Linked DNA regions of Homo sapiens: region 1 is linked to region 2. Evidence: fine-mapped expression QTL. A gene starts in region 2. The other region holds a variant in brackets. All regions are shown on one strand. Distances are from middle to middle. Region 1 overlaps NWD1 (NACHT and WD repeat domain containing 1). Region 2 holds the start of SIN3B (SIN3 transcription regulator family member B).

Region 1 (15,828 bases), 26 kb before region 2:
ATGGTGAAACCCCATCTCTACTAAAAATACAAAAATTAGCCGGGCATGGTGGCAGGTGCCTGTAATCCCAGCTACTTGGGAGGCTGAGGCAGGGGAATTGCTTGAACCCGGGAGGCGGAGGTTGCAGTGAGCCAAGATCATACCACCGCACTCCTGCCTGGGAGACAGAGTGAGACTCCATCTCAAAAACAAAAAAAATAAAAATTAAAAAATTAAAAAATTCCAGACTTGTAACCCTTAACCCGTGGAAGTGCCTGACAGGCATCCCTGGTTCTGCACAGGTTTCCTCCAAAGGGGACAGATTGCTGGAGAAGCTTCCAGATGCTGTGAGGTTCCTGGTGGTCTCTGAAGATGAGTCCCTCCTCGCCGCAGGTAGCGTTTAGCTCTCATTTGGAGTAGTGAGGAAGCTAATCAGGATCAGGTTGGAGAAGGGGGTGGGGCTTGGGAACAGAGAGAAGTCCTAGGGCCAGAGGTTAGCAACGTTTTCTGCCAAATGGCCTCATAGTAAACATTTTTTGCAGTCCAGACGAGACAACCTCAGTTGCAAAGACTCAACTCTGCAGTTGTGGTACATAAACTAGCATAGACACTATTTTTCTATTATTTTTCTTTTTTTTTTAAATAGGGTCTTGCTGTGTCACCCAGACTGGAGTGGAGTGGCTCAATCATAATTCATTGCAGCCTTGAATTTCTGGGCTCAAACGATCCTCCCACGTCAGCTTCCTGAATAGCTGGGATTACAGGCACACACCACCACACCCAGCTAATTTTTGTATTTTTAGTACAGACGGAGTTTCACCATGTTGGCCAGGCTGGTCTCGAATTCCTGACCTCAGGTGATTCGCCCACCTTAGCCTCCCAAAGTGCTGGGATTACACAGGCGTGAGCCATTGCGCCCAGCCCTTTCTTTCCTTTTGATGCAGGATTTTTCTTGGCCTCTTTGCCAAGCTGGGAGCAGGGGGCACCCCATTTATTCAGCCTGTGGGGTCACATCTGGCTTTTGGCCCAGCCCGCGGCTCCCATGGCCACTGCCACGACTGAGCACTCAGCCCCTAGCAGGAGGGAGCATGTGAGCAAGTGAATGTAGGGTCCAGCTGGCTGCTTCAAGCACTGACACAGGGCCAGGCTCCATGCAGGGCCCATGGGCAGACCAGGCCATGTGTCACCCCAAAGGAAACACAAGGGGTCCACGACCCTGAAGCCCCAGAGGGGGTGTTACAGTGTGCTAATTACCTTTTTTTTTTTTTTTTTTTGAGACCGAGTCTCGCTCTATTGCGTAGGCTGTAGTGCAGTGGTATGATCTCAGCTCACTGCAACCTCCACCTCCCGGGTTCAAGCGATTCTCCTGCCTCAGTCTCCCAAGTATCTGGGATTACAGGCACCTGCTACCACGTCCCGCTAATTTTTGTATTTTTAGTAGAGATGGGGTTTCATCATGTTGGCCAGGCTGGTCTTGAACTCCTGACTTCAGGTTATCTGCCTGCGTCTGCCTCCCAAAGTGCTGGAATTACAAATATGAGCCACCACACCTGGCCTAATTTGCTCTTTTAGTTCCACCATCTGCAACCCAATGGATGGTGGCATGTTAGCAGTTCAGTCAGCCCCTTTCCCCATTCTGGCCTGCAGTTCTGGGACTGGCTTGGCCCCACCACTGCTTCTATTGCGTGGAGCAGCTTCCCTCTGCCATCAAGGACAGAGGGCCACAGTGTCACAGCCTTCCTGGGTACCTGCATCCAGTGAGTCCTAAGCTCTTGTCCCGTGTCCAAGAAGAATGAGGTCATGCTGACAATTGAAAAGTGATAAGGACAGAGAATTTTATTGAGCAACAAAACAGCTCTCAGGGGAGAGGGGATGTGAAGGTTGGGTCATCTCTCTCAGTGTGGCTGAGTCTGGGCGTTTTTATAGGCACAGGATGGGGGAGGGGCAGGTGGTAGGTAGTATTGGAAAACGTAACATTCAATTGGTTAAAAAGCATTATTCAGGCCAGGTGCAGTGGCTCACGCCTGTAATTCCAGCACTTTGGGAGGCCAAGGTGGGCCATCACCTGAGATCAGAAGTTCAGATCAGTGAACTTCTGATCTGAACTTCTGATGATCATGGTGAAACCCTGTCTCTACTAAAAATACAAAAATTAACTGGGCATGGTGGCAGGCGCCTGTAATCCCAGCTACTCGGGAGGATGAGGTGGGAGAATTGCTTAAACCCAGGAGGTGAAGATTGCAGTGAGCCAAGATCATGCCACTGCCACAAAAGTCTTATTCAGAAAGAATCAATCAGGAAAGGGTGGGCAAACAGGAACAGGAGTTCTCACTCTGGGTTGTGGATTTCATTTGGAAACAGCAGCCCAGGCTGTTTTTGGTTCAAAGGTACAGTTTCACTGGGGACCCATTCCTATCTGCCTAGGCATTTGCCTGCCTCCTGCCGCTATCCCTTCCTTTCTCCCTTCTTACTTTCTTTCCTCTTCTTCCTTCCTTCTTCCCCTTCTCATTTCTCTCCTTCCTCCCTTCCTCTTTACTTTTCTTCCTCTCTACCTCCTTGACTCTCCTCTCTCCTTCCTCCCTTCCTTCCATCATAGTTATCAAAGGCCTGCTGTGTGCCCAGCTTTGTGCTAGTTTCTGAGATACCATGATGAGCCAAATAGGCAGTCCCTGCCCTCCAGGAACTTACAGTTTCATTATAATAACTTTACAAGTTTCCTTAAGATGAGTGATTACTGGCTGGGTACGGTGGCTCAGGCCTGTAATCCCAGCACATTGGAAGTCCGAGGTGGGCGGATCACTTGAGATCAGGAGTTTGAGACCAGCTTGGCCAGCATGGTGAAACCTGGTATCTACTAAAAAATACAAAATTTAGCCAGGCATGGTGGTCAGCACCTACAAGCCCAGCTACTCAGGAAGCTGAGGCAGGAGAATCGCTTGAACCCAGGAGGCAGAGGTTGCAGTGAGCCAAGATCATGCCACTGCACTCCAGCCTCAGTGACAGAGCGAGACTCCATCTCAAAAAAAAAAAAAAATTGATGAGTGATTACAGAAGTCAGGCCCTCCCCCAACCAGCTGTGGGCTATGTGCAGATGGGGACAGGACTGAATCCACCTTCCCCGTCCTGGATCCCTTCTCCTGGCACCTAGCAGGGGTTCCAAAACATCTCTTTTTTTTTTTTTTTTTTTTGAGACAGAGTCTGGCTCTGTTGCCCAGGCTGGAGTGTAGTGGTGCAATCTCAGCTTACTGCAGCCTCTGCCTCCTGGGCTCAAGCAATTCTCCTGCCTCGGCCTCCTGAGTAGCTGGGATTACATGCATGTGCCACCACACCTGGCTAATTTTTGTATTTTTAGTAGAGAATAAAATACATGAAACATCGGGGTTCACCATGTTGGCCAGGCTGATCTCGAACTCCTGACCTCGAGTGATCTGCCCGCCTTGGCGTCCCAAAGTGCTGGGATTACAGGCATGAACCACCACATCCGGCCTCCAAAACACCTCTGTTGATGGAAGGAATGACCCTCAATCTCCTCTGGACATGAGAGGTGTAACCCCAGTTCCTGCCGTTTCAGGCTTTGGAAGATCGGTGCGGATATTCTTGGCGGACTCGAGGGGCTTTCGCCGATTCATGGCCATGGATCTGGAACATGAAGACATGGTGGAGACGGCTGTTTTTGGTACTGAGAACAACCTGATCATCACGGGGTCCCTTGATGCGCTCATTCAGGTGAGGGGAGATCTGGGACCCTTCATCCTCACCTCCACCTCGGGAACAGACACTGATTCTTTAGGGATTTTTGGCTGCAAAATACAGACACCCACAAAAATGAGTGCAGGCAAAATAGGTGAGTTCATTGGGAGGATATGGGGGTGTATCCTCCGCCCCAGTGGCAGACCTGGGTGAGAATTACTGAAATGTTCAACAAAGGAGGTAGCATTCCCAAACTGATCCTCAAACCTTGGGGGCAGATTTGTGCCTTCAGAGTGGAGCAGGGTTGTGGGGGAGGAAAATTCTCAATTTAAGTTCAAAGTTGTCCAAGCTGGAGAGAAAAGTAGATGGTGAAATAGCAGATCTTCAGTGTTTTAGTCTCAGGCCTCTTGAAGTTCTCTTTTTTTCCCCCTCCTTCTTATGAGCTATTTTTTCCAGTTTTAAAGAAATTGATAAATAGACTGTGCACAGTGGCTCATGCCTGTAATCCCAGCACTTTGGAAGGCCAAGGCAGGTGGATCACTTGGGCCCAGGAGTTCGAGACCAGCCTGGGCAACATAGCAAGACCCAATCTCTACAAAAAAACACAAAAATTAGCCGGGCGTCATGGCATGTGCCTGTAGTCCTAGCTACTCAGGAATCTGAGGTGGGAGGATCACATGAGCCTGGGAGGTAGAGGCTGCAGTGAGCTGTGATTACGCCACTGCACTTCAGCCTGGGTGACAAAACAAGAACCTGTCTCCAAAAAAATAAGAATAATTTTCTTTATTTTTTGAGACCAAGTCTCACTCAGTCGCCCAGGCTGGAGGGCAGTGTGGCATGATCTCAGCTCACTGCAACCTCGACCTCCTGGGTTCAAGCAATTCTCCTGCCTCAGCCTCGCAAGTAGCTGGGATTTCAGGCACCCACCACCATGCCTGGTTAATTTTTGTATTTTTAGTAGAGACGGGGTTCCGCCATGTTGGCCAGGCTGGTCTCAAACTCCTGACCTCAGGTGATCAGCTGCCTTGGCCTCCCAAAGTGCTGGGATTACAGGCGTGAGCCACCATGTCTGGCTAGAATAAAATAATTAAAAAAAAAAAAACATTAAAAGTTTTGAGCTTCCAGACCCTCTAAAAAAGGTTTACAGGGCACCCTCTAAAAAAGGTTTACAGGGCACCCTCCAGGAGTTCCCTGGAACACACTTTGGGAACTGCTCTGGAAGCTGATGGGTTCAAGCCTGAGTAAGTTAAAGGAATGGGAAGATGTGAAGGCCCTTGAACTTACAGCCTGAAAATTCACCTTAGGTTTATGAATGGGCTGAAGTGTATTTCTTATTTTCTTATTTATTTATTTTTATTTTTATTTTGACGGAGTCTCACTCTGTTGCCAGCCTGAAGTGCAGTGGCGCAATCTCAGCTCACTGCAATCTCTGCCTCCCAGGTTCAAGTGAGTCTCCTGCCTCAGCCTCCCGAGTAACTGCGATTACAGGTGTGCACCACCACGCTTGGCTGATTTTTGTATTTTTAGTAGAGATGGGGTTTCACCATGTTGGCCAGGATGGTCTTGATCTCCTGACCTCATGATCCACCCGCCTCAGCCTTCCAAAGTGCTGGGATTACAGGTGTGAGCCACTGCACCTGGCCTATTTATTTATTTTTATTTTTATTTTTTTTGAGACGGAGTTTCATTCTTGTTGCCCAGGCTTGCGTGCAATGGCACGATCTTGGCTCATTGCAAACTCCACCTCCCGGGTTCAAGCGATTCTCCTGCCTCAGCCTCCTGAGTAGCTGGGATTACAGGCATGCACCACCAAGCCTGGCTAATTTTTTGTATTTTTATTAGAGATGGGGTTTCTCCATGTTGGTCAGGCTGGTCTCGAACTCCTGACCTCAGGTGATCCACCTGCCTCAGCCTCCCAAAGTGTTGGGATTACAGGCGTGAGCCACCGCGCCTGGCCCAATGGGCTGAAGCGTATTTCTGAACTATAGTTGTCCACAGAAGATGTCAGATCTGCCCTCCTGTTCTGCTTCCTCAGGTGTGGAGTCTGTCAGAACAGGGGACCCTTCTGGACATCCTGGAAGGCGTCGGGGCCCCCGTGAGCCTGCTGGCCCGCGGCGGGGCTTTGGTGGCATCTGCTTCCCCACAGTCCTCATCTTTCAAGGTCTGGGATCTCAGCGATGCTCATAGGTCCCGGGTGCCTGCACCATTTCTGGACCGCACCGGCCTCACCGCAGTGTCCCACAATGGAAGCTACGTCTACTTCCCCAAAATTGGGGACAAAAACAAAGTCACTATTTGGGACTTGGCAGAAGGTTGGTAAGGTATAAGTATGGTCATTTTTGTGGGTAAGGCTTGGAGCCATCTGTCTTAGTTTAGGCTACTGTAACAAATCATCCCCACAGGCTGGGCCCCATGGCTCACGCCTGTAATCCCAGGACTTTGGGAGGCCTTGGCGGGTGGATCACCTGAGGTCAGGAGTTCAAGACCAGCCTGGCCAACATGGCAAAACCCTGTCTCTACTAAAAATACAAAAGTTAGCCGGGCATGGTGGCACATGCCTGTATCCCCAGCTACTTGCGAGGCTGAGGCAGAATTGTTTGAACCTGGGAGGCGAAGACTGCAGTGAGCCGGGATCCTGACTCTGCACTCCGGCCTGGGCGACAGAGTGAGACTCTGTCCCAGAAAAATAAAATAAAATAAATTATCCCCATAGACTGGGTGGCATAAGCAAGAAACATTATTCCTCAACATTCTGGAGGCTGGGAAGTTCCAGATCAAAGTGCAAGCAGATCTCGTGTCTGGTGAGGACCCGTTTCCTGGTTCACAGATGGCCATCTTCTTGATGTGTCCCCAGAGAGAGAGAGAAATCTCTTGTGTCTCTTCTTATAAGGGCACTAATCCTATTCAGGAACGCCCCACATTCATGATCTAATCACTTCCCTGTCACTCTGCTACAGTTCGGAGGTTTGGCCCTACAAACCAGATGTTGGCATTTAATATCCGGCTGGCCATGGTGGCTTAAACCTATAATCACAGCACTCTGGGAGGCCGAGGCAGTAGGATTGTTTGAGCTTAGGGTTCAAGAACACCTGGGCAAGATGAGAGGATGCCATTTCTACTAAAAATTTAAAAAATAGCTGGATGTGGCCAGTCATGGTGGGTCACACCTCTAATACCAGCACTTTGGGAGGCCAAGGCAGGCAGATCACTTGAGGTCGGGAGTTCGAGACCAGCCTGACCAACATGGAAAAACCCCACCTCCACTAAAGCAATACAAAATTAGCTGGGCGTGGTGGTGCATGCCTGTAATCCCAGCTACTCAGGAGGCTGAGGCAGAAGAATAGCTTGAACCTGGGAGGCAGAGGTTGCAGTGAGCCGAGATCACGCCATTGCACTCCAGCCTGGGCAACAAGAGCAAAACTCTGTCTCAAAAAAAAAATTAGCTGGATATGGTGGCATGTGCTTGTTGTTCTAGCTATTTTGGGGGCTAAGGTGGGAGGATCGCTTGAGCCTGGGAAGTTGAGGCTACAGTGAGTCATGATCGCACTACTGCACTCCAGCCTGGGTGACAGAGTGAGACCCTGTCTCTAAAAACAAACAAAAAAGCCAGGCGTGATGGCTCACACCTGTGATCCCAGCACTTTGGGTGGCTGAGGTGGGCGGATCACTTGAGCTCAGGAGTTTGAGACCAGACGTCTCTACATAAAAGACAAAAATTAGCTCGGTGTAGTGGCTCACATCTGTAGTCCAAGCTACTTGGGAGGCTGTGGTGGTAGGATCACTTGAGCCCAGGAGGCAGAAGTTGCAGTGAGCTGAGATTGTGCCACTGCACTCCAGCCTGGACGACAGAACAAGACCCTGTTTGAAAACAAAACAACAATAAAAAAAGAAATTTAATCCCCAGTGTTGGAGGGAGGCCTCACGGGAGGTGTTTGAGTCATAAGGACACATCCCTCGTGGATAGATTAATGCCCTCTCCTGGCAAGGCAGTGGTGGTGGTGAGTAAGTTCTAACTCTGTTAGTTCTCGCGAGGTTGTTAAAAAGAACCTGACCCCAGCTACTCAGGAGGCAGAAACAGGAAGATTGCTTGAGGCCGGGAGTTCAAGACCAGCCTGGGCAACATGGACCTTGTCGCAATAAAAATAAAAATAATGGCCGGGCATGGTGGCTCACGCCTGTAGTCCCAGCACTTTGGGAGGCTGAGTTGGGTGGATCACGAGGTCAGGAGCTCAAGACTAGCCTGGCCAACATGGTGAAACCCCATCTCTACTAAAAATACAAAAATTAGCCGGACGTGGTGGCGGGCACCTGTAATCCCAGCTGTTCAGGAGGGAGGCAGGAGAATCGCTTGAGCCCGGCAGGCAGAGGTTGCATTGAGCACCATTGCACTCCAGCCTGGGTGACAGAGCAAGACTCTGTCTCAAAAATAAATAAATAAATAAAAATAAAAATAAAAATAATGAGCTGGGCATGGTGATATTCACCTGTAGTCTCAGCTACTTGAGAGATGGAGGCAGGATGATCGCTTGAGCCCAGGAATTTGAGGCTGCAGTGAACTG[T/C]GATTGCACCACTGCACTCCAGCCTAGGTGACAGAGCAAGACCCTATCTCAATTAAAAAAAAAAAAAAAAAAAAAAGGAAGCTAGCACTTCCCTCTCTCTTGCTTCCTCTGGCCGTATGACCTCTGCACACCCCAACCCCCTTCACCTTTTGTATTAAGAAGAAGCAGCCTGGGGCCCTCACCAGAAGCAGAAGCTGGCACCATGCTTCCTGTACAGCCTGCAGAACAATGAGCCACATAAACCTCTTATTCATAATTATGCATTACTGTATTAGTCTGTTCTCACACTGCTAATAAAGACATACCTGAGGCCGGGCCTGCTGGCTCACACCTGTAATCCCAGCACTTTGGGAGGCCAAGGCAGGCGCATCATTTGAGGTCAGGTGTTCGAGACTAGCCTGGCCAACATGGTAAAACCCTGTCTCTACTAAAATTCCAAAACTTAGCCAGAAATCGCTTGAACCCAGGAGGTGGCAATTGCAGTGAGCCAAGATCTTGCTACTGCACTCCAGCCTGGGCAAGAGTCAGACTCTGTCTCAAAAAAAAAAAAAAAAAAGACATACCTGAGACTGGGTAATTTGTAAAGGAAAGAGGTTTAATGGACTCACATTTGCACATGGCTGGGAAGGCCTCACAATCATGGCAGAAGGCAAATGAGGAGCAAAGTCACGTCTTACATGGTGGCAGGCAAGAGAGTGTGTGCAGGGGAATTGCCCTTTACAAAACCATCAGATCTCATGAGACTTATTCGCTACCACAAGAACAGTATGGGGGAGACTGCCTCCATGATTCAATTATCTCCAGCTGGCCTCGGCCTTGACCTGTGGGAATTATTGCAATTCAAAATGAGATTTGGGTGGGGACACAGCCAAACCATCTCAGTTACCCAGCCTCAGGTAGTCCTTCATAGCAACACCAACAGACTTAGACAGGCCCCAGCTCCTAATACCATCCTATGGGGAGTGAGGATTTTGACATAGGAATTTGGTGGGGGGGTGGGGACACAAATCTTCAGTCCATAACATTCCTATAACTTCAATCAGGTAGAAAGTAGCTAGTCAAAAACAGGTTTTCATTAGCAACACCAATGAACTAAGACAGGCCCAAGCTCCTGATACCATTCCACAGAGGGTGATGATTTTAACATAGGAATTTGTCAGGGGGACACAAATCTTCAGTCCATAACACGCCTATAACTTCAATCAGGTGGAAACTAGCTAGTCATGGCCAGGTGTGGTGGCTCACACCTGTAATCCCAGAACTTTGGGAGGCTGAGGTGGGCGGATCATTTGAGGTCAGGAGTTGGAGACCAGCCTGGCCAACATGGCGAAACCCCAACTCTACTTAAAAAAAAAAAAAAAAAAAATTATCTGGGCGTGGTGGTGTGTGCCTGTAATCCCAGCTACTGGGGAGGCTGAGGCAGGATAATTGCTTGAACCTGGGAGGTGGAGGCTGCAGTGAGCCAAGACCATGCCACTGCACTCCAGCTTTGGCAACAGAGTGAGACTCCACCACCCGAAAAAAAAAAGAAAAAGAAAGTAGCTGGTCAAAAACAGGATTTCATTTTATACATTTTCTGCATGAGGTAGTTGGCAATCTGGTTGTTTCCGTTTGGCCTGTTTTAATTCAGGTTACCTAGAAGCTGAATCTGTGATGAGGATATTTGCACAAGTGATGTATTGAGGGGTGTTTCCAGGAGAACCCCAGAGGGAGATGAGAAAATGGGGCTGGCGGGGGAAAGGGTTGAGCAAGAATGCAGGCTCAGCTAAAGTCCCTCTCAGCATCATTCCATGGGGAGCCCTGGAAGAGGTAGAGCACCAGTCTTAGTCAATTCCGGCCACTATAACAGAATGCCATGGATTGGGTGGCTTAGAAAGAATAGCAAATGGGGCCAGGTGTGGTGGCTCATGCCTGTAATCCCAGCACTTTAGGAGGCTGAGGAGAGAGGATCACTTGAGGCCAGAAGTTCGAGACCAGAAGTTTGAGACCAGCCTGGGCAACATAGTGAGACCCCACCTCTACAAAAAAATTTAAAAGGTATCGGGCTTGGTGGTACATGCCTGTAGTCCTAGTTACTCCAGAGTCTGAGGCAGGAGGATTGCTTGAGCCGTGGAGTTCAAGGCTGCAGTGAGCTATGATAATGCCACTGCACTCCAGCCTGGGCAACAGAGACCCTGTCTCTCTGTTTTTTTTTTTAATTTAAAGAAAGAATAGAAATTTGTTTATCATATTTCTGGAGGAGGCTGGGGAGTCCAAGATCAAGGTGCCAGCAACTTTGTTGTCTTGGGTTAAATTAATTTTTTTTTAAATTTGGTATCTGGTGAGTGTCCTCTTTCTGGGTCATGGATGGCCAGATTTTCTTTGTCCTCACATGGTAGAAAGGGGCAAAGAAGCTCCCTGGGGCCTCTTTTTTTTGTTGTTCTGTCTTATTTAAGAGTCAGGGCTCACTCTACTGTCTAGGCTGGAGTGAAGAGGTACAATGACGGCTCAGTGCAGCCTCGAACTCCTGGGCTCAAGCGATCTTCCTGCCTCAGCCTCCTGAGTAGCTGGAACCACAGGTGCACCACCATGCCTGACTCCTGGAGACTTTAAAATTTTTAAAAATATTTATTTATTTATTTATTTTTATTTTTATTTTATTTTATTTTTGTTGTTGTTCTTTTGTTTGAGATGGAGTCTCGCTCTGTCACCCAGGCTGGAGTGCAGTGGCGTGATCTCAGTTCACTGCAACCTCCGCCTCCCGGGTTCAAGCAATTCTCCTGCCTCAGCCTCCCGAGTAGCTGAGATTACAGGTGTGCAGCACAATGCCTGGCTTATTTTTGTATTTTTAGTAGAGATGGGGTTTCACCGTGTTGGCCAGGCTAGTCTCGAACTCCTGACCTCAAGTGATCCACCTGCCTCGGCCTCCCAAAGTGCTAGGATTACAGGTGTGCACCACTGTGCCCAGCCAAATTTTGTGTGTTTTGTAGAGATAAGGTCTCTCTATCTTGCCCAGGGTGGTCTTGACCTCCTGGGCTCAAGCAATCTGCCTGCCTCAGCCTCCCAAAGTGCTGGGATTAGAGGCGCACACCACCATACCTGGTTAATTTTTTTAATGTTTTTGCAGAGGCAGGGGTCTCACTCTTTTGCCCAGACTGGTCTTGAACTCCTGGTCTCAAGCCATCCTCTCACTTCAGCCTCCTGAATAGATGGGATTACAGGCATGAGCCACTGCACCTGGCATCTCTCCATTTCCTTGGGCCCTGGTTCACCCTGCAACCAGCAAACAAGCACCTCGAGAATTGTAACCTCACTTGATTTGCTCCCTGCCAACCCCCAGAGCTTTGCCTAGTGGGCTGTTACTCTAAAAATGTTTGCCAAATTAACGACTGAATGAAGTTGAGAATCAGCTTGAAAATCAGGATTCCTTTCTCCTATTATTTCATCATTAACAAGGAGTTTCTTTTTTCTTTTTCTTTCTTTTCTTCTTTTTTTTTTGAGAGGGAGTTTCCATCTGTTGCCCGGGCTGGAGTGCAGTGGCGTAATCTTGACACACTGCAACCTCCACCTCCTGGGTTCAAGCGATTCTCCTGCCTCAGCCTCCCTTCCAAGTAGCTGGGATTACAGGTGCCTGCCACCACGCCTGGTTAATTTTTGTATTTTTGGTAGAGACAGGGTTTTGCCATGTTGGCCAGACTGGTCTCAAACTCCTGACCTCAGGTGATCCATCCACCTCGGCCTCCCAAAGTGCTTGGATTACAGACGTGAGTCACCACGCCCTGCCATTAACAGGAGTTTCTATACCTCTATCCTCCCAGCAGGACTGTGCCAAGTACTGTTGGTGAGAAACTCAGAAATCCCTCACTGTCCAATTCTCGCAGACCCAGCAGTGCCCCCACCTTCATTTTACTCCTGGGAATTGCCCACTGATGAAAGAAGCCTCTCAACTGGAAATGGCAGGGGGATGTGGCCACCGCCCCTGAAATGGCCCCAGTCAATGACTGCCTGATGTGGGAATACAAAAGTCTGGCCCCCTTGCTTCAAGATGGGACAATTCATGGTGGCTCATGCCTGTAATCCCAGTACTTTGGGAGGCAAAGGTGGGAGGATCGTTTGAGCCCTGGAGTTCAAGAATAGCCTGGGCAACATGGTAAAATCCCATCTCTACAAAAATTAGCTGGGCGTGGTGGCCCGAGCCTGTAGTCCCAGTTACTTGGGGGGCTGAGGTGGGAAAATCACTAGAGCCTGAGAGGTTGAGGCTGCAGTGAGCCATGTTCGTGCCACTGCACTCCAGCCCGGGCAACAGAGTGAGACTCCGTCTCTTAATAAATAAATACATAAATAGGCTGGGCGCGATGGCTCATGCCTGTAATCCCAGCATTTTGGGAGGCCGAGGCGGGCGGATCACTTGAGGTCAGGAGTTCAAGACCAGCCTGGCCAATATAGCGAAACCCCGTCTCTACTAAAAATACAAACAAATTAGCTGGGCGTGGTGGTGCGCACCTCTAGTCCCAGCTACCCGGGAGACTGAGGTGGGAGAATTGCTGGAATCTGGGAGGCAGAGGTTACAGTGAGCCGAGATTGTGCCACTGCGCTCCAGCCTGGACAACGAAGCCAGACTCTGTCTAAAAAAAACAAAAAATAAAAAAATTAGTAGGGCACAGTGGCAGGCGCCTGTAGTCTCAGCTACTCAGGAGGCTGAGGCAGGAGAATCACTTGAGTCCAAAAGTTGGAGGCTGCAGTGAGCTTCAGTCTCGCCACTGCACTCCAGAATACTGTCTCAAAAAAAAAAAAAAAAAGAAAGAAAGAAAATATGAACACCAGGCCGGGTGTGGTGGCTCACGCCTGTAATCCCAGCACTTTGGGAGGCCAAGGTGGGTGGATCACCTGAGGTTGGGAGTTAGAGACCAGCCTGGCCAACATGGAGAAACCCCACCTTTACTAAAAATACAAAATTAGCTGGGCGTGGTGGCACACACTTGTAATCCCAGCTACTCGGGAGGCTGCGGCAGGAGGATTGCTTGAATCCAGGAGGTGGAGGTTACGGTGACCTGAGATCGTGCTATTGCACTACAGCCTGGGCAACAGAGTGAGACTCCATCTCAAAAACAAAACAAAACAAAAAAAACCACCAGGGAAGCAGGGCTGCTGTGATTCACTCTCAGTGTAAGTCATTCTCATTTTTCTTCCCTGGCAGGCGAGGAACAAGATTCCCTGGACACCTCCAGTGAGATCAGGTGTCTGGAGGTTGCTGAGCAGCGCAAGCTCCTATTTACGGGCCTCGTGTCGGGGGTCGTCCTTGTGTTCCCCCTGAATTCCAGGCAGGACGTGATATGCATTCCCCCTCCCGAGGCCCGGAAAGCAATCAACTGCATGTCCCTGAGCAAGTGCGAGGACCGCCTGGCCATCGCCTATGACAACATCGTCCTGGTGCTGGACATCACCTCCGGGGACCCCTGCCCGGTCATCGATGGGCCAAGATACACCTTTTACACTCAGCTGCCCGAGACCCTCTCCAGCGTGGCCATTCTGACGGACTACCGCGTGGTCTACAGCATGACCAATGGGGACCTCTTTCTTTACGAGTGTGCAACTTCCAAAGCGTTTCCCTTGGAGACCCACAGGAGCCGAGTTGCCTGTGTGGAGGTCAGCCACAAGGAGCAGCTGGTGGTCAGCGGGTCTGAGGATGCCCTGCTGTGTCTCTGGGACCTGCAGGCACGCAAGTGGAAATTCGAGATGAGCTACACGGTGGGTGGCCCGCCTCCCCATGTTCATGCTAGACCCAGGCATTGGAAAACTGATAGATAGCCATCATTTACTAAGCACACACCATGGGCCATCGACCAGGATGGGACTGGGGTGATGAAAATGAGGCACTTGGTCAGGCGCAGTGGCTCACGCCTGTAATCCCAGTACTTTTGGAGGCTGAGGCAGGCGGATCACCTGAGATCGGGAGTTCAAGACCAGCCTGGCCAACATGGTGAAACCCCGTCTCTACTAAAAATACAAAAATTAGCCAGGTGTGGTGTTGCATGCTTGTAATCTCAGCTACTTGGGGGGCTGAGGCAGGAGAATCGCTTGAAATTGGGAGGCAGAGGTTGCAGTGAGCCAAGATCACGCCACTGCACTCCAGCCTGACTACAGACACTCCGTTTAAAAAAAAAAGAAAAGAAAAGAAAAGAAAAGTGAGGCATTTGTCTCAGAAGCAAAGTTTTTTTTGTTTTCATTTTTTTTTTAAAGAGACAGGGACCCCACTGTCACGAGGCTGTAGTACAGTGGCACAATCATAGCTCATTGCAGCCTCAATCTCCTGGGCTCCAGTGATCCTCCCGCCTCAGCCTCCCAAAGCACTGGGATTTCAGGCATGACCCACCGGACCTGGCTACAAAGTTCAAAGGAGTACCAAAAAGCTCAGCAATGGTAGGCCAGGTGCAGTGGCTCACCCGGCACTTTGGGAGGCCCAGGAAGGAGGATCACTTGAGGCCAGGAGCTGGAGACCAGCCTGGGCAACATAGGGAGACCTTATCTCTACAAACAAATGCAAAAATTAGCTGGGCATGGTGATGTGCACCTGTGATCCAGCTACTTGGAGGGCTGAGGCGGAAGGATTGATTGAGCCCGGATGCCACTGCTCTCTAGCCTGGGTGATAGAGCAAGGCCTGTCTCAAGAAAACAAAAAACAAAAACTCAGCAATGAAGATAAATAATTTTTTTTTTTTGAGATGGAGTCTTGCTCTGTCACCCAGGCTGGAATGCAGTGGCGCCATCTCAGCTCACTGCAGCCTCCCGGGTTCAAGCAACTCTCCCGCCTCGGCCTCCCAAGTAGCTGGGATTACAGATAAGCACCACCATGCCCAGCTAATTTTTGTGTTTTTAGTAGAGAAGGGGTTTTGCCATGTTGTCCAGGCTGAACTCCTGGCCTCAAGTGACCTGCCTTGGCCTCCCAAAGTGCTGGGATTACAGGTTTGAGCCACTGCACCTGGCCAAGAAGTAATATTTTAATGCAATATTTTTAAAAATCTAAAATGAATACCAAAATTCCATGAAGAACAAAATCTCAACATTATAGGTAAAAACTGGATCAAATCCTGCACTGGCTTAGTGCTGCTTCACTCTCTTCACCCTAATCCTGGCTCTGTGCTATTTCTTTTTTTTTTTCTTTTTCTTTTTCTTTTTTTTTTTTTGAGATGGAGTCTTGCTCTGTCACCCAGGCTGGAGTGCAGTGGTGCGATCTCGGCTCACTACAAGCTCTGCCTCCCGGGTTTATGCCATTCTCCTGCCTCAGCCTCCCGAGTAGCTGGGACTACAGGTGCCCGCCACCACGCCTGGCTAATTTTTTTGTATTTTTTTGGTAGAGATGGGGTTTCACCGTGTTAGCCAGGATGGTCTCAATCTCCTGACCTCGTGATCCGCCCACCTTGGCCTCACAAAGTGCTGGGATTACAGTCATGAGCCACCGTGCCTGGCTGCTCCGTGCTATTTCTTTATCCAACTGATACTTATTGAAAAACCTCTGCCAGGACCCCTTTCTATCACAAGGGTTGCTTTTCTATCACCCCTTTCTATCTGCCTGGTCACAGGGAGACTCTATCCCATGTCTTGGAGCCACTTTGTAGTTGGG
Region 2 (15,828 bases):
AGTCAGGAGTCTGGGCATGGCATGACTGGATTCTTTGTTCAGGATCTCACAAGGTGTCAGCCGGACTGGGCTCTCATTGAGAGCCTCAGGGTCTTCATCCAAGCTCCTTCAGATTCTTGGCAGAATTAAGCCCTTCAAAGCTATAGGAGTGGAGACCTCAGCTGCCCCTCTCCATAGGCAGTTTGCAAAACAGCTGCTTCCTTCTTCAAGGCCAGCAGCATTGTATTTCTCTGATGCTTCATCTCTGACCTCAAACTCAGACTCAGACTCAGACTCAGATTGTCTTTTAAAAAAATTTTTTTTTGGCCAGGTGCAGTGGTTCACACCTGTAATCCCAGCACTTTGGAAGGCCCAGGCTGGCAGATCATGAGGTCAAGAGATACAGACCATCCTGGCCAACATGGTGAAACCCTGTCTCTACTAAAAATGCAAAAAATTAGCTGGGCATGGTGGTGCGCGCCTGTAGTCTCAGCTACTCAGGAGGCTGAGGCAGGAGAATCAGTTGAACCCAGGAGATGGAGGTTGCTGTGAGCCAACATCATGCCACTGCACTCTAGCCTGGTGACAGAGTGAGACTCTGTCTCAAAAAACAAAAAAAATTTTTTTAGAGATGAGGTCTTGCTGTGTTGCCCAGGCTGGTCTCAAACTCCTGGCCTCAAGTGATCCGCCTGCCTCTCAAAGTGCTGGGATTACAGGTTTGAGCCACTGCACCTGGCCCAGTAGCACCTTTTTATGTTTGATAAAAATAAGAATATCCAGCCTAGGCAACTTAGTGAGACCCTGTCTGTAAAAAAAATAAAAATAAAAAATTAGCCAGGCATGGTGGCACGTACCTGTAGTCCTGGCTACTCAGGAGGTCAAGGCTGCAGTGAGCTGTGATTGCACCATTGCACTCCAGCCTGGGCAACAGAGCGAGTACCTGTTTCAGAAAATAAATAAATGGAAATAAAATTAAAAGATGTCTTTGTACTATTGTCCTCATGATAAATATACACATGTGTGCACATACATACATGTACACACATGCCCCAGATGGAACTGGCTTGTGGTTTTGTCAGAGGCGTTTGAAACAAGCTTACTCCATCTAGAATAGGGGCTGGGTAAAATGAGGCTGAGACCTGCAGGGCTGCATTCCCGGGAGGTTAGGCATTCTAAGCCACAGGGTGAGGTAGGAGGTGGACGGAAGACCCAGGTCACAAAGACCCTGCTGATAAAACAGGATTCTGGGGCGGGGTGGGGGTCGGGGGGCATTGTTTGTTTGTTTGTTTTTGTTTTTGTTTGAGACAGAGTTTCGCTCTTGTTGCCCAGGCTAGAGTGCAATGAATGGCGCGATCTTGGCTCACTGCAAACTCTGCCTCCTGGGTTCAAGAGATTCCCCTGTCTCAGCCTCCTGAGTAGCTGGTATTATAGGCACATGCTACCATGCCTGGCTAATTTTTGTATTTTTAGTAGAGACGGAGTTTCATCATATTTATCAGGCTGGTCTCGAACTCCTGACCTCGGGTGATCCACCTGCCTCGGCCTCCCAAAGTGCTGGGATTACAGGCGTGAGCCACTGCGCCCGGCCCATGCAGGGTTTTTGTTGTTGTTGTTGTTGTTGTTGTTTTTGAGACAGAGTCTTGCTCTGTCACCCAGGCTGGAGTGCAGTGGCATGGTCTTGGCTCACTGAAACCTCCACCTCCTGGGTTCAAGCGATTCTCCTGCCTCAGCCTCCTGAGTAGCTGGGATTACAGGCGCCCGCCACCACGCCTGGCTAATTTTTTTTTTTTTTTTTGAGTAAAGATGGGGGTTTCACCATGTTGGCCAGGCTGGCCTCGAACTCCTGACCTCAGGTGATTCGCCCACCTTGGCCTCCCAAAGGGCTGGGATTACAGGCGTGAGCCACCGTGCCGGGCCAGGATGCAGGGTTTTATCAGCATGGTGTGAAAGTGACCTCTGGTTGTCCTCACTGCTCATTATACACTAATTATAATACATTAGCATGCTAAGAGACACTCCCACCAGCGCCATGACAGTTACAAATGCCATGGCAACTTCCAGAAGTTACCCTATAGGTTCTAAAAGGGTAGGGACCCCTAAGTTCTGGGAAATCTTCGCCCCTTTTCTCAGAAAACTCATGAGTAATCCATCCCTTGTTTAACCTATAATCAAGAAATAACTGTAAGTATATGCAATCGAGCAGCCCATATCACTGCTCTGCCTGTGGAGTAGCCATTCTTTTATTCCTTTACTTTCTTTTTCTTCATTTTTAAAATTTATTTTTATTTTTTGAGATGCAGTTTTGCTCTGGTCACCCAGGCTAGAGCGCAATGGTGCGATCTCGGCTCACTGCAACCTCCGCCTCCCAGGTTCAAGTGATTCTCCTGCCTCAGCCTCCCGAGTAGCTGGGATTACAGGCGTCCACCACCATGCCCAGCTAATTTTTGTATTTTTAGTTGAGACAGGGTTTCACCATCTTGACCAGGCTGGTCTCGAACTCCTGAACTCAGGTGATCTGCCTTCCTCGGTCTCCCAAAGTGTTGGAATTACAGGCATGAGCCACTGCACCTAGCCTTTTTTCTTTTTTTTTGAGACAGGATCTTGCTCTGTTTCCCAGGCTGGAGAGCAGTGACACGACCATGGCTCACTGCAGCCTTGACTTCTTGGACTCAAGCAATTCTCCTGCCTCAGCCTCCCAAATAGCTGGGACTGCAGACGTGCACCACCACGCCAGGCTAATTTTTTGTTTTGTTTTGTTTGTTTGTTTGTTTTTTGTAGAGAAAAAGCGATCTGTCTGCCTTCGTCTCCCAAAGTGCTGGGATTACAGGCGTGAGCCACCTGGCCTCCTTTACTTTCTTAAACTTACTTTATGGACTTGTCCAGAATTCTTTCTTGCATGAGATCCAAGAACTCTCTCTTGGGGTCTGGATGAAGACCCCTTTTCGGTAACAGTTTCCTCTTCCCCAAATGAAAGAGGGCCTTTGCTGATCATTTGAGAGAAAACAAATTTGAGTAGAAGCCACACTCCCTGTGGGGAGGGGCACACTGTGGGACAACTCTGTTGGCCCTCAAGGACGATGACTAATAGGTTGCTGATGTCAGAGGCATTTGAACCAGAGCAACAACATCTTGAATAGGGGCTGGGTAAAATAAGGCTGAGACCTACTGGGCTGCATTCCCAGATGGTTAGGTCATTCTAAGTCACAGGATGAGTTAGGAGGTCAGCACAAGATACGGGTCATAAAGACCTTACTGGCCTGGCGCGGTGGCTCATGCCTGTAATCCCAGCACTTTGGGAGGCTGAGGTGGGTGGATCACCTGAGGTCGGGAGTTTGAAACCAGCCTGACCAACATGGAGAAACCTCGTCTCTACTAAAAATGCAAAATTAGCCGGGCCTGGTGGTGCGCACCTGTAATCTCAGCTATTCGGGAGGCTGAGGCAGGAGAATCACTTGAACTGGGAGGTGGAGGTTACAGTGAGCCAAGATTGCGCCATTGCACTCCAGCCTGAATAACAAGAGTGAAACTTCGTCTAAAACAAACAAAAACAAACAAACAAAAAAAACCTAGCTGATAAAATAGCCTGCAGTAAAGAAGCCAGCCAAAACCAAGATGGAGACAAGAGTGGCCTCTGGTTGTCCTCACTGCTGTACTCCTACCGGTGCCATGACAGTTTACAAATGCCATGGCAACATCAGGAAGTTACCCTATATGGTCTAAAAAGGGGAGGCATAAATAATCCACCCCTTGATTAGCGTATCATCAAGAAATAACTGGCCAGGCGCGGTGGCTCATGCCTGTAATCCCAATACTTTGGGAGGCTTTGGTGGATAGATCATTTGAGGTCAGGAGTTTGAGACCAGCCTGGCCAACATGATAAGACCCCCGTCTCTAATACTAAAAATACAAAAATTAGCCAGGCGTGGTGGCACGCACCTGTAATCCCAGCTACTTGGGAGGCTGAGGTAGGAGAATCGCTTGAACCTGGAAGGCAGAGGTTGCAGTGAGCTGCAATCGCGCCACTGCACTCTAGCCTGGGCGACAGAGTAAGACTTCGTCTCAAAAGGAAATAACCATTAAAATGGGCGGCCAGGCGCTGTGGCTCACACCTGTAATCCCAGCATTTTGGGAGGCCAAGGTGGGCGGATCACGAGGTCAGGAGATCAAGACCATCCTGGCTAACATGGTGAAACCCCATCTCTACTAAAAATACAAAAAAAATTAGCCAGGTGTGGTGGCAGGCGCCTGTAGTCCCAGCTACTCGGGAGGCTGAGGCAGGAGAATGGCATGAACCTGGGAGGCGGAGCTTGCAGTGAGCCACGATGGCGCCACTGCACTCCAGCCTGGGCGACAGAACGAGACTCTGTCTAAGAAAAAGGGCAACCAGCAGCCCTGGGGGCTGCTCTGTCTATGGAGTAGCCATTCTTTAGTCCTTTACTTTCCTAATAAACTTACTTTCAGTTTACTGTATGGACTGGCCCTGAATTCTTTCTTGCGTGAGATCCAAGAACCCTCTCTTGGGGTCTGGATTGGGACCCCTTTCCCGTAACAGTGTCAGAGGTGTTTGAACCAGAGGAACCCCGACTTGAATAGGGGCTGGGTAAAATAAGACTAAGACCTACTGCACTGCATTCCCAGATGGTTAAAGCATTCTTAGTCACAGGATGAGATAGGAGGTCAGCACAACATACGGGTCATAAAGACCTTGCTGATAAAACAGGTTGCAGTAAAGAAGCCGGCCAAAATCTACCCAAATCAAAATGACCTCTGGTGGTCCTCACTGCTACACTCCCACCAGCGCCAAGACAGTTTAGAAATGCCATGGCAACGTCAGGAAGTTACCCTCTATGGTCTAAAAAGAGGAGGCATGAATAATCCACCCCTTGTTTAGCATATCATCAAGAAATAAATCATAAAAATGGGGAATAAGCGGCCCTCGGGGCTGCTCTGTCTGTGGAGTAGCCATTCTTTGTTCCTTTATTTTCCTTATAAACTTGCTTTCACTTTACAGACTCTCCCTGAATTCTTTCTTGCGTGAAATCCAAAAACCCTCTCTGGGGGGTCTGGATCGGGACCCATTTCCTGTAACACTGGGAGGCTTTGGTAAGAAACGGACTGTCCAGACATCTGGTGGCCACAGAGTGTTCAGTCTGCCTTCGCTGCTCTTCCTGGCTGGGAGCCACAAATCTTCCATGCTTTACTTTCTAAATACCACTCCCTTCCACCCACCGCTCTCTACTTCCACTGCTCCCATCCTGGTCTAAGCCACCATCGTCCTTTGCCTAAATGATGAAACAGCCTCCCTCCACCCTCCCTGGCTCCGCTCCAATCACTTTCCTGCAGAGCAGCCAGAGTGATCACTTTCAAATGCAAACCTGAACTTGCAGCTCCTCCGCTCAAAGCCCTTGGATGGTTTCCACCAGCGTGAATGCTAAAGCCTGAACTCAGTGCATAAGGTGCTGTGTGTTCCGCTCCTCTGGCTGCTCCGGGATTATCTTGTACTCTCTTTCTTCCCCTCCCTCTCTGCAGCCTGGGAAACTCGTCTTAAAAAAAAAAAAACTCTTGAAATGTACCATGCTGTCTCCCACCTCAAAAATCACAGCTGTTCGTGATTTTTCTCATGATGAATGCCTACGCATTCTTCAGATCTCAGCTAGAATGCCACCTCCTCTGGGAAGCCTCCCTCATCTCCTGCAAGACTGGGTTAGGTTTCCCTAGGTAACAGGTGGTATTTTCCAAAAATAGCCACAACATATTTCCTGTCCCACATGATACTCTTGGCCATTTGCCCTCCTCTTGAATTTAGGAAAAACTTTGTAACAGCCTGTATGGAAAGAATGCAATGGAAATGATTCTGCGTGACTTCCGAGTCTGGGTGAGAAAAGGTAATATGGGAGCTGGGTGCAGTGATGCATGCCTGTAGTCCCAGCTACTCAACAGATTGACGTGGGAGGATCCTTTGAGTCCAGGAGTTTGAGGCCAGCCTGGGCCAGCCTGAGACCCTGAGTCCCACCCCAACCCCTGCCATCTCCGGAAGAAGAAGAAGGAGAAGGAGAAGAGGAAGAAGAAGAGGAAGAGGAAGAAGAAAAAGAAAAGATGATATGATTCCCACCTGGCTCACACGCTCACTTGTTCTTAGAACGGTAGTTGTGAAGAAGCTCAGGCTGCAAGGAGACCACATGTAGGTATTCCAAGCAACGGCCCCAGCGAGGGTCTCGGCCTGTAGCCTGTAGCAACTGACATACATATGTGTGAGCAAACATTCAGGTGATTCCAGCCCCCAGACTTTGAGCCACCCAGCTGATGCCAAGGTTGAGTTATTCCTCCCAAGCCTGCCCAAATTGCAGATTGAAGAGTAAAATGAATGTCTCTTTTCTTTCTTTTTTTTTTTTTTTCAAGACAGGGTCTTGCTCTTGCTCTGTTCCCCAGGCTGGAGTGCAGTGGCGCAATCTCAGCTCATTGCAACCTCCACCTTCTGGGTTCAAGCGATACTCATGCCTCAACCTCCCAAGTAGCTGGGATTACAGGTGTGTGCCACCACACCTGGCTAATTATTGTATTTTTAGTAGAGATGGGATTTCACCATCTTGTCCAGGCTGGTCTTGAACTCCTGGCCTCATGTGATCCACCCACCTCTGCCTCCCAAAGTGCTGGGATTACAGCCATGAGCCACTTGCCCCGTGAATGTTGTTGTCATTTGAAGCTTCTAAGTCTTGAGCTGCTTTTTATTTTCTTTTACAGAAAGCCCAGACCTTACAATGTTTTTATTTTTTCTCTCCATTTTTCTTTCTTTTTAATGTTTTTGTACAGATGGGATCTTGCTATGTTGCCTGGGCTGGTCTCAAACTCCTGGCCTCAATGCATGCCCCCACCTTGGCCTCCCAAAGTGCTGGGATTGTCAAGGGCTCATTTGTTACACAGTCATAGCAACAGAAATTTAGGAACTGTTACATGTATACCTTCTCTTTAAAGTATTTGTTACATGTGAAACTTTACATTTGTGTGATTACTAGATTCCTGTCTATCCTGAGAGACTAAAAGCTCTTAACGGCCAAATTTGCGTTCCTTTTTACCATTCTATTCCTGACACTTAGCAAGGTGCCTGGTAAATGATGCACTCGATGCCAATTTACTCTCAACTTTCCTGCACCTCTTCACTTATAAAAAGAGAAAGCACTTGGTCATTAATTGAACGTTCACTTATTTGATGAATGCTGACTGAGAGACTGTGTCAGGGATTTGTATTAGAGACGGACACAAAACAAATATGAAATACAAGGGACTGAGGGGAGACATAGAAGGGGACTGGGAACACTTCCTGAGGGAAAGGGATATTTGGGCTGCGTTTAGAAGGATGTATAGGTGTTTTCTGAATAACAAAGAGGCATGACAGTACTTCTGGCAAAGGAAATGGTGAGTGCCAATGCTTGGGACCAGGAAGCAGCCAGGTTGGTCAGGCAATTGTGTGAAGTTCTGCACAGAGGCAGGCAGTTTGCTTGGAAAATCCTGCAGGAAAAGGTTCCTAAGGACCAATTCTGACAGCCTGCAATGTAGGTGCTTAGATTTCATCTCATTAGAAATAGGAAGACCTTGGAGGTTTGGAAGGAGTGGTGGAAAAAGTGGAGTTTTTTGTTTTTCTGTTTTTTTTTTTTTAAGAGATGAGATGCTCTTTAAAAAAAAAAAAAAAAAAAAGCACTGCTATGCTTCCCAGGCTGGGGTGTGCAGTGGCAAGATCATGGCTCACTGCAGCCTTGAACTCTTGGGCATGAGCAATCCTGCCTCAGCCTCCCGAGTAGCTGGGACTAAACGTGTGCACCACCACGCCCAGCTAATTTTTTCATTTTATTTTATTATTTAATTAATTAATTAATTAATTTTTTGAGACAGAGTTTTTGCTCTTGTTGCCCAGGCTGGAGTGCAATGGCGTGATCTTGGCTCACTGCAACCTCCGCCTCCCGGGTTCAAGCAATTCTCTTGCCTCAGCCTCCCGAGTAGCTGGGATTACAGGCATGCGCCACAAAGCCCGGCTAATTTTGTATTTTTAGTAGAGACGGGGTTTCTCCATGTTGGTCAGGCTAATCTCCAACTCCAGACCTCAGGTGATCTGCCCGCCTCGGCGTCCCAAAGTGCTGGGATTACAGGCGTGAGCCACGGCGCCCAGCCAATTTTTTCATTTTCTTTTTCTTTTTTTCAAGGCCCGGCTAATTTTTTGTATTTTTAGTAGAGACGGGGTTGCACCGTGTTAGCCAGGATGGTCTCTATCTCCTGACCTCGTGATCCGTCCGCCTCGGCCTCCCAAAGTGCTGGGATTACAGGCGTGAGCCACCATCCCCAGCCTAGAGTTCTTGATAGTATCAGGGCTGAGAAAGTACCAGAGTTAGAGCCAGGTGGGGTGGCACTAAAAGTACAAAAAATTAGCAGGGCGCAGTGGCGGGCGCCTGTAGTCCCAGCTACTCAGGAGGCTGAGGCAGGAGAATGGTGTGAACTCGGGAGGCGGAGCTTGCAGTGAGCGGAAATCGCGCCACTGCACTCCAGCCTGGGCGACAGAGCGAGACTCTGTCTCAAAAAAAAAAAAAAAAAAAAAAAAAAAAAAAGAAAGTACCAGAGTTAGGAGGCTCCTAAACTGGTCCAGATGGGAAGTGACGGGGCCAAGGATAGGGAAGTGAAGATGGGAGGAGTAGGACTAACTTAAAGGCCATTTAGCAAAAATTCACCACGCAAGGCCCTATATTAGGGCGCTGGGGGCTCATACCTCATCGTCCCGTCAACTCTATAAAGCAGGGGCCAACAAACTTTTTCCATAAAAGGCCAGATCGTAAATACTTCAGGGTCTGCAGATCTGTAGGATCTTTAGCAACTACCTACTCTGTTGTAAGGCGAAAGCAGGCAGAGAAGCCAGGTAAACGCGTGGGCGTGTCTGTGTGCTAATAAAACTTTATTCAGGGACCCTCAAATGTGAATTTCACAAACTTTTCACAGGTCATAGACTATTCTTCTTTGGATTTTTCCCCCGGCTATGTAAACATGTAAAAATAATTCTGAGCTTGCGGGGCCGGACAAAGTAGGCGGCGGGTCTTGGCTCGCCTACCCCTGCTATATAAATCATTAATTATGATACCAATCTTAAGGAGAAGGTCTTCAGAAGAGTCCCTCAAAGAGCACCGCCCCTCAACGTCATCAAACCCCGCCTCCAAAGGCGGAGGCTGCGCATGCGCGGCAGGACCTCGGGCGGGGGCGGGGCGGGGCGCAGCTCCGACTTCGGACATGGCGCACGCTGGCGGTGGCAGCGGTGGCAGCGGTGCCGGCGGCCCCGCGGGCCGGGGGCTGAGCGGCGCCCGCTGGGGTCGCTCGGGCTCCGCAGGCCACGAGAAGCTGCCGGTGCACGTGAGTGGCGTCCCCGCCCTCCCTCGGGGAACCCATCTTCTGGACCCCGCGGGCGGGCGCCCCTCACCCAGGCCCCGCCCGGCCCCAGCCCCACCTCGGCCTCCCCTCTGCACTGCCCCGGACCCCTCACCCCTCACCTCTCACCTCGGCCCTCCGAAAGCCCAGCCCATCCCCTTCCCCTCAGGGACCCCGGCCCCTCGTCCCCTCGTTCCGCGGCCAGGGCCCACCGGGACCCTCCCCCTCTCTGCAGGTAGAAGACGCCCTCACCTATCTGGACCAGGTGAAGATCCGCTTTGGCAGCGACCCTGCCACCTACAACGGCTTCCTGGAGATCATGAAGGAGTTCAAAAGCCAGAGGTACCAGCGGGGCCCCTCTCCACCTCAGGGGACCCCCCTGGGCCGGAATCGGGCCTAGCGGGGTGAGACCTCCCCTCTCCAGCCTGCCCCCTTAGCCGGGTGACCTTGCGCAGGTTGTCCAATCTCTCAGAGCCCTAGCTCCTTCTCGTAACAAAAATGGAAATGGGTAGTACCCACCTTGTGGAGCTTTGTGGGGATTCCTGGAAGCAGGACAGGGATCTGGGGGGAGGCAGGGAGGGCGAGGCCGTGCACACTCATAGAGTCAAATCCTGCCTTGATTTAATATGTTGATTTTTATATTAGTTTTGTTCATGAAAGATTTGGTGGGACCCATTTTGATTTTTATTTTCAAGCGCTGTAAAATGTTATTGTCTTGATGATTGAAATTTTTGGCACCCTCTTCCCCTTTAATCTTGTCCTCAAGATGCTTCTCTGGGCTCACTGTGGTCCCAGGCCTGCTTGGAAGTAAGACGCATAAAATGCTTAGTAAGGGAGCTGGCACACAGAAAACGTTTAAAACACATGAGATGATTTTGCAGGCCCAGAATCAAGGAAGATTACAGATAGATGGGAAACCCTGGGATCATGCCCTTGTTTTTATAGGAGACTCACTGAGGTTTGGAGTGGGTAAGGGACCCACCTAAGTGGCAGAGGTGTCACTAGAACTCAGACCCTCTGACTCAGATTCTTGGAAGTCACATGCTTACCATACTGCTGCCCCCTCTTAGGAAACATGGTGGGGCTGGCCTGGTTTCCTTCCGGGAGCCCAGTGCTAAGGGCTGGGCTGCAATGCAGCCAGAAGGGAGACCCCATCTCTCCCCTCCTATTTTTCTTACACCTTTCCCATTCTTGGCAGTACCATTGGTATTTATGCATTGCAATTGTTTGCTCAGATGGAAACCTGTGTCATAGTCATCTCTATCTGATACAAAATGAGGGAAGTTTTCACATTGCTTAGAGGACTTTGGCCTCCTGCCATTTCTTGGAGTCCAGGCCTTGCGGTTGGCTCTCCTGACATTTTCAGAACCGAGTACCCATTCTTGGAGTGTTTTAGGGGAGCTGAGCGATGTCAGTATTCTCTGGTTCTCACCAGGAGGGAACAGGGAGCTCAGGCCTAGCCAGTCAGGAGATAGGTCATGGTGTACAGATGCTATCACATGGGGGCACTTTTTTTTTTTTTTTTGAGATGGATTCTCGTGCTGTCGCCCAGGCTGGAGTGCAGTGGTGTGATCTGGGCTCACTGCAGCCTCCGCCTCCCGGGTGCAAGTGATTCTTGTGCCTCTGCCTCCTGAGTAGCTGGGACTGCAGGCACGCACCACCACTCCAAGTTCGTTTTTGTATTTTTAGTACAGACAGGGTTTCACCATGTTGACCAGTCTGGTCTCGAACTCTTGACCTCAGGTGATCTGCCTGCCTCGGCCTCCTAAAGTGCTGGGATTACAGGCATGAGCCACTGCGCCTGGTGGGTCACATTTTAGGTTCCTTTGTTGTCTGTTGAGAAGGTTTTTATGTGGCAGTATCAAGGGAGTGGGGAATAGATTATATTTTTCATTTATTTCCCAAGACCCTTTTGCCCACTTCCGTTGTTTCTTCTAGCATCGATACTCCTGGAGTCATCAGACGTGTCTCGCAGCTCTTCCACGAGCACCCTGACCTCATTGTTGGATTCAACGCTTTTCTTCCCCTCGGATATAGAATAGACATTCCCAAGAATGGCAAGTTAAACATACAGTCGCCTCTGACAAGCCAGGTATGCCACTACAGTGGTTCGGGTGATCTCAGCCTTCACCGAGTATGTCTTGCTACTCAGGTTGGGCCACGTGTCTCTCCTGTATCATTGCTAGAAAGCCACTTAAGATCTGTTCTTTTTCTAGACGTGCTCATTGCTTCTAGCACAAATCAAAATAGATATGGAAACACCTACACAAGCAGCCTCTGCCTCCCAAATTGATCTGTTTGGAAGATTTAAATCAAGAGTGGATGTCAGGGAGGTATCCTCCTAACGCAGAATTTTGTGTGAAGTCTAAATAACCACCTCAGCAGTTGCTGAGGTCTTGGCTTGAGGCTTTCCCAGCGAGCATACCAGGCAGGCTTGCCCTTGTATTTAAGCATGTCCTCGTCTGCCTCTGATCACTCTCAGTACCACCTACAAAATAAAGTGGTCGAGATGGTGTGTGAGTAGCCACGTTTATGTTGGCTGTGTTTCATTTAATTGTTGATAGGATCATTAGCTCAGCTGGGACTCCTGGCTTTGCTTTGGTCCCTTTTTTCTTGGGTGATAGGTGCTGGCCCTCTTTTTTTTTTTTTTTTTTTTTTTGGAGACGGAGTCTGGCTCTGTCACCCAGGCTGGAGTGCAGTGGCGCAATCTCAGCTCAGTGCAACCTCCGCCTCCCAGGTTCAAGCAATTCTCCTGCCTCAGCCTCCCGAGTAGCTGGGATTACAGGTGTGCACCACCATGCTTAGCTAATTTTTGTATTTTTAGTAGAGATGGGGTTTCTTCATGTTGGCCAGGCTGTTCTTGAGCTCCTGACCTCAAGTGATCTGCCTGCTTCAGCTTCCCAAAGTGCTAGGATTACAGGCGTGAGCCACCGTGCCCAGCCTCCTTTTTTTTTTTTTTTTTTAAGACAGGTTCTCACTCTGTTGCCCAGGCTGGAGTGCAGTGGTGCCATCATATCTCACTGCAGCCTCAACCTCCTGGGCTCAAGTGATCCTCCCGTCTCAGCCTCCTAAGTAGCTAGGACTACAGGCGTGCACCACCACGGCCAGCTAATTTATTTATTTTTTTTGTAGCGACAGGGTCTCACTATGTTGCCCAGGGTTGGTCTCGATCTCCTGGCCTCAAGCGATGTGCCCACCTTGGCCTCCCACAGTGCTGGGATTACAGGAGTGAGCCACTGTGCCTGGCTCACTGCCCCTTCTATCTCTGCAGTCTCTTCATGCTTGAGCTTACTAGCGCCTCTGAGAAAAAGAAAGCCTACTTAAGATTTCCTTTTATAAGATGACCATTGTCATTTTTTCCACCTCAACACTATTTCCCATTTAAGGCATAATTCTTTGCTGTTGGGGGCTTCCCAGTGCATTGTGGGGTGTTTAGCAGGATCTGTAGCGTGTACCTACCAGACCTTCACTCAGTTCTGACAGCCAGAAATGTCTCCAGACATTGCCAGGTGTCTCCCTGGGGGGCAAAAGTGCCCCTGTTGAGAACCACCGGTGTAAGTGGACCAGCTCTCCCAACCTCCTCCAGTCCTTGCCTCGAGAGTTTTAGCAGGGAGTGTCAGAATCTACTGCTGGAAGCACTTGGTAGGTCTTCTTTGATGGAAGAGATGATAGAGCGTCCAATCAATTAGGGATCTGACACTCCGCAGTCAGTTGGAAAGAGAACAGCGAAGGGTAATGTGGCAGTGCTTTTGTATTAATTCCATGTGCAAGGTGTGTGTCAATTCTGCTGCTTCTCGGCCAGGCGCAGTGGCTCACGCCTGTAATCCCAGCACTTTGGGGGGCCGAGATGGGTAGATTACAAGGTCAGGAGTTCAAGACCAGCCTGGCCATCATGGTGAAACCCTGTCTCTACTAAAAGTACAAAAATCAGCCAGGCGCAGTGGAGCATGCCTGTAATCCCAGCTACTTGGGAGGCTGAGGCATGAGAATTGCTTGAACCTGGGAGGCGGAGGTTGCAGTGAGCAGAGATTGTGCCACTGCACTGTAGCCTGGGTGACAGAGCAAGACTCCGTCTCAAAAAAAAAAAAAATTCTGCTGCTTCTCTGTGCAAGACCCTCTCTGCCATCAGCCTGTTGTCTCCTGAAAGCCAAGGAGCGAGTCTCAGGGTTTTTTTTTTGCCTTTTTTGAGAAGGAGTCTCGCTCTGTCACCCAGGCTGGAGTTCAGTGGCGCAATCTCGGCTCCCTGCAACCTCCACCTCCTGGGTTCAAGAGATTCTCCTGCCTCAGCGTGCTGAGTAGCTGGGATTACAGGCACGCTTCATCATGCCCGGCTAATTTTTTTGTATTTTTAGTGGAGATGGGGGTTTCGCCATGTTGGTCAGGCTGGTCTCGAACTCCTGACCCCGTGATTCGCCCACCTCTGCCTCCCAAAGTGCTGGGATTACAGGTGTGAGCCACCGCACCCAGCTGAATCTCAGCTTTAAAGGGGAACTTGGAAGCGTGTGGCCACTGAACTCTGAAGAGCCTTCCATTTCCTGTTTGCAAATGAAGCCCCAGGATCCAGATGTACTGCTTGTGTCTTAGACCATGAAAGCCTTAGCAAGACTGATCTCCAGAACAGTCACGACTGCGGGAGAAAGCCAAGCTCATTTGCAATAGCAGCGTCCACCAGAGCACTTTGCAGAGCCTGAATGCTGTGGAAACTCTGGGTCTCGTTCCTGTCACTCACTCAGAAAGAGCCAGAGTGAAAAGATGTGAACTGTGCGTCCTGCATGTGGAAATTGCCTTTCAGCAGAGTCCCTGCCCGTGGAGTAACTCGGCTTTCAGGGCTAGATCTTGACAGGCGCCACACTGGTTGTATTTGGAGTTGGCTCTTCCTTTAAGTAGCTGCGGGTCCCCAACCGTGGAGGGCTGGCAGTCTTGTCTCCCCGTAGGTGGCTTAGGTGACAATGATGACGGTGCAGACCCATCGACTTGGGGAAAGGCTTGAAAAGAACTTTCACTTAGTAGCTACTCAGCAGGGCCTTGGTCATCGTGCTGCAGCCTGGGAACAGTCATTTCCAGGCTTAGGTGTAGAAGTTTGTTCTCTTCGGGGGCCCCTGGGAGCCCACTGGCTTCCAGTTGATATTGACACAGGTGCTGTCAGGTTTCCAGCCCTGTTTCCCAGCAGTCTGGGCTGTTGTTTGTGTGGCTTCAGGACAGAAACATGAGAGATATCCCAGGTCCAGGCCATGACTCGCGTGGCTTCAGGAGTCCTTTGAGCTTTCGGCTCCCTGGAGTCCTTTGAGAGGCCATCGTCTGAAAGCCTCACAGGGTTTCCCACACACAGAGGCCCTGGTGATATTCTTTCTTTCTTTCTTTTCTTTCTTTTTTTTTTTTTTTGTGACAGAGTTTCAGAGTTTCGCTCTTTACCCACGCTGGAGTGCAATGACACAATCTCGACTCACCGCATCCTCTGCCTCCCCAGTTCAAGCGATTCTCCTCCCTCAGCCTCCTGAGTAACTGGGATTACAGGCATGCACCAGCGCGCCCGACTAATTTTGTATTTTTAGTAGAGACGGGGTTTCTCCATATTGGTCAGGCTGGTCTTGAACTCCCGACCTCACGTGATCTGCCTGCCTCGGCCTCCCAAAGTACTGGGATTACAGGCATGAGCCACTGCACCTGGCCATCTTTTTTTTTTTTTTTTTTGAGACAGAGTCTCGCTGTGTTGCCCAGGCTGGAGTGCAATGGCACGATCTTGGCTCGCTGCATCCTCTGCCTCCCGGGTTCAAGTGATTCTCCTGCCTCAGCCTCCTGAGTAGCTGGGATTACAGGTGCCTGCCACCACTATCAGCTAATTTTTGTATTTTTAGTAGAGATGGGATTTCACCATGTTGGTCAGGCTGGTTTCGAAATCCCCTGACCTCATGATCTGCCCACCTCGGCCTCCCAAAGTTCTTTTTTTTTTTTTTTTTACTTTAATTGAATTATTTTTTAATTTTGAGACACCATTTCACTGTCACCCAGGCTAGAGTACAATGGCGTGATCTCAGCTCACTGCAGCCTCCGCCTCTGAGGTTCAAGTCATTCTCCTGCCTCAGCCTCCCAAGTAGCTGCTATTACAGGCATGTGCCACCACACCCAGCTAATTTTTGTATTTTTAGTAGAGACAGGTTTTCACCATGTTGGCCAGGCTGGTCTCGAACCCCTGACCTCAAGTGATCCCCCACCTCAGCCTCCCAAAGTGTTGAGATTACAGGCGTTAGCCACTGTGCCTGGCCTTTTTTACATTTTTAAAACAGAGACAGGGTTTCACCATGTTGTCCAGGCTGGACTCAAGTGATCCTCCTGCCTTGGCCTCCCAAAGTTTTGGGATTACAGGTGTGACCCACCACGCCTGGCCAGTATTCTCTGTTGCTTAGTTTTTCTAGTTTGACTGTTTTGAAGTATCTTTTTCCCCCCCCAATT

What was found. PIP is the estimated chance that this variant, and not a neighbour inherited with it, causes the effect.
Region 1: its variant is fine-mapped to the expression of SIN3B in whole blood (INTERVAL, PIP above 0.99).

Annotation. Positions count from the first base shown.
Region 1 is chr19:16,794,182-16,810,009 of GRCh38, forward strand. It overlaps NWD1 (NACHT and WD repeat domain containing 1), which reads left to right. Exons shown (of 19, transcript NM_001007525.5): 15 at 282-372; 16 at 3,551-3,705; 17 at 5,705-5,981; 18 at 13,405-13,955. It overlaps LOC124904648 (a long non-coding RNA gene), which reads right to left. Exons shown (of 3, transcript XR_007067150.1): 3 at 1,798-3,779. Among named protein-coding and RNA genes, the nearest start is that of SIN3B, 27 kb to the right of the region's middle. The variant T/C (reference allele first, on the strand shown) is at 8,229.
Region 2 is chr19:16,820,178-16,836,005 of GRCh38, forward strand. SIN3B (SIN3 transcription regulator family member B) reads left to right here and starts at 9,221. Exons shown (of 19, transcript NM_001297595.2): 1 at 9,221-9,363; 2 at 9,614-9,720; 3 at 11,317-11,470. The coding sequence starts at 9,244. It overlaps LOC124904648 (a long non-coding RNA gene), which reads right to left and starts at 1,055. Exons shown (of 3, transcript XR_007067150.1): 1 at 1,014-1,055; 2 at 834-919. RefSeq lists enhancers at 5,153-5,830, 8,947-9,448, 14,084-14,173 and a silencer at 9,189-9,368.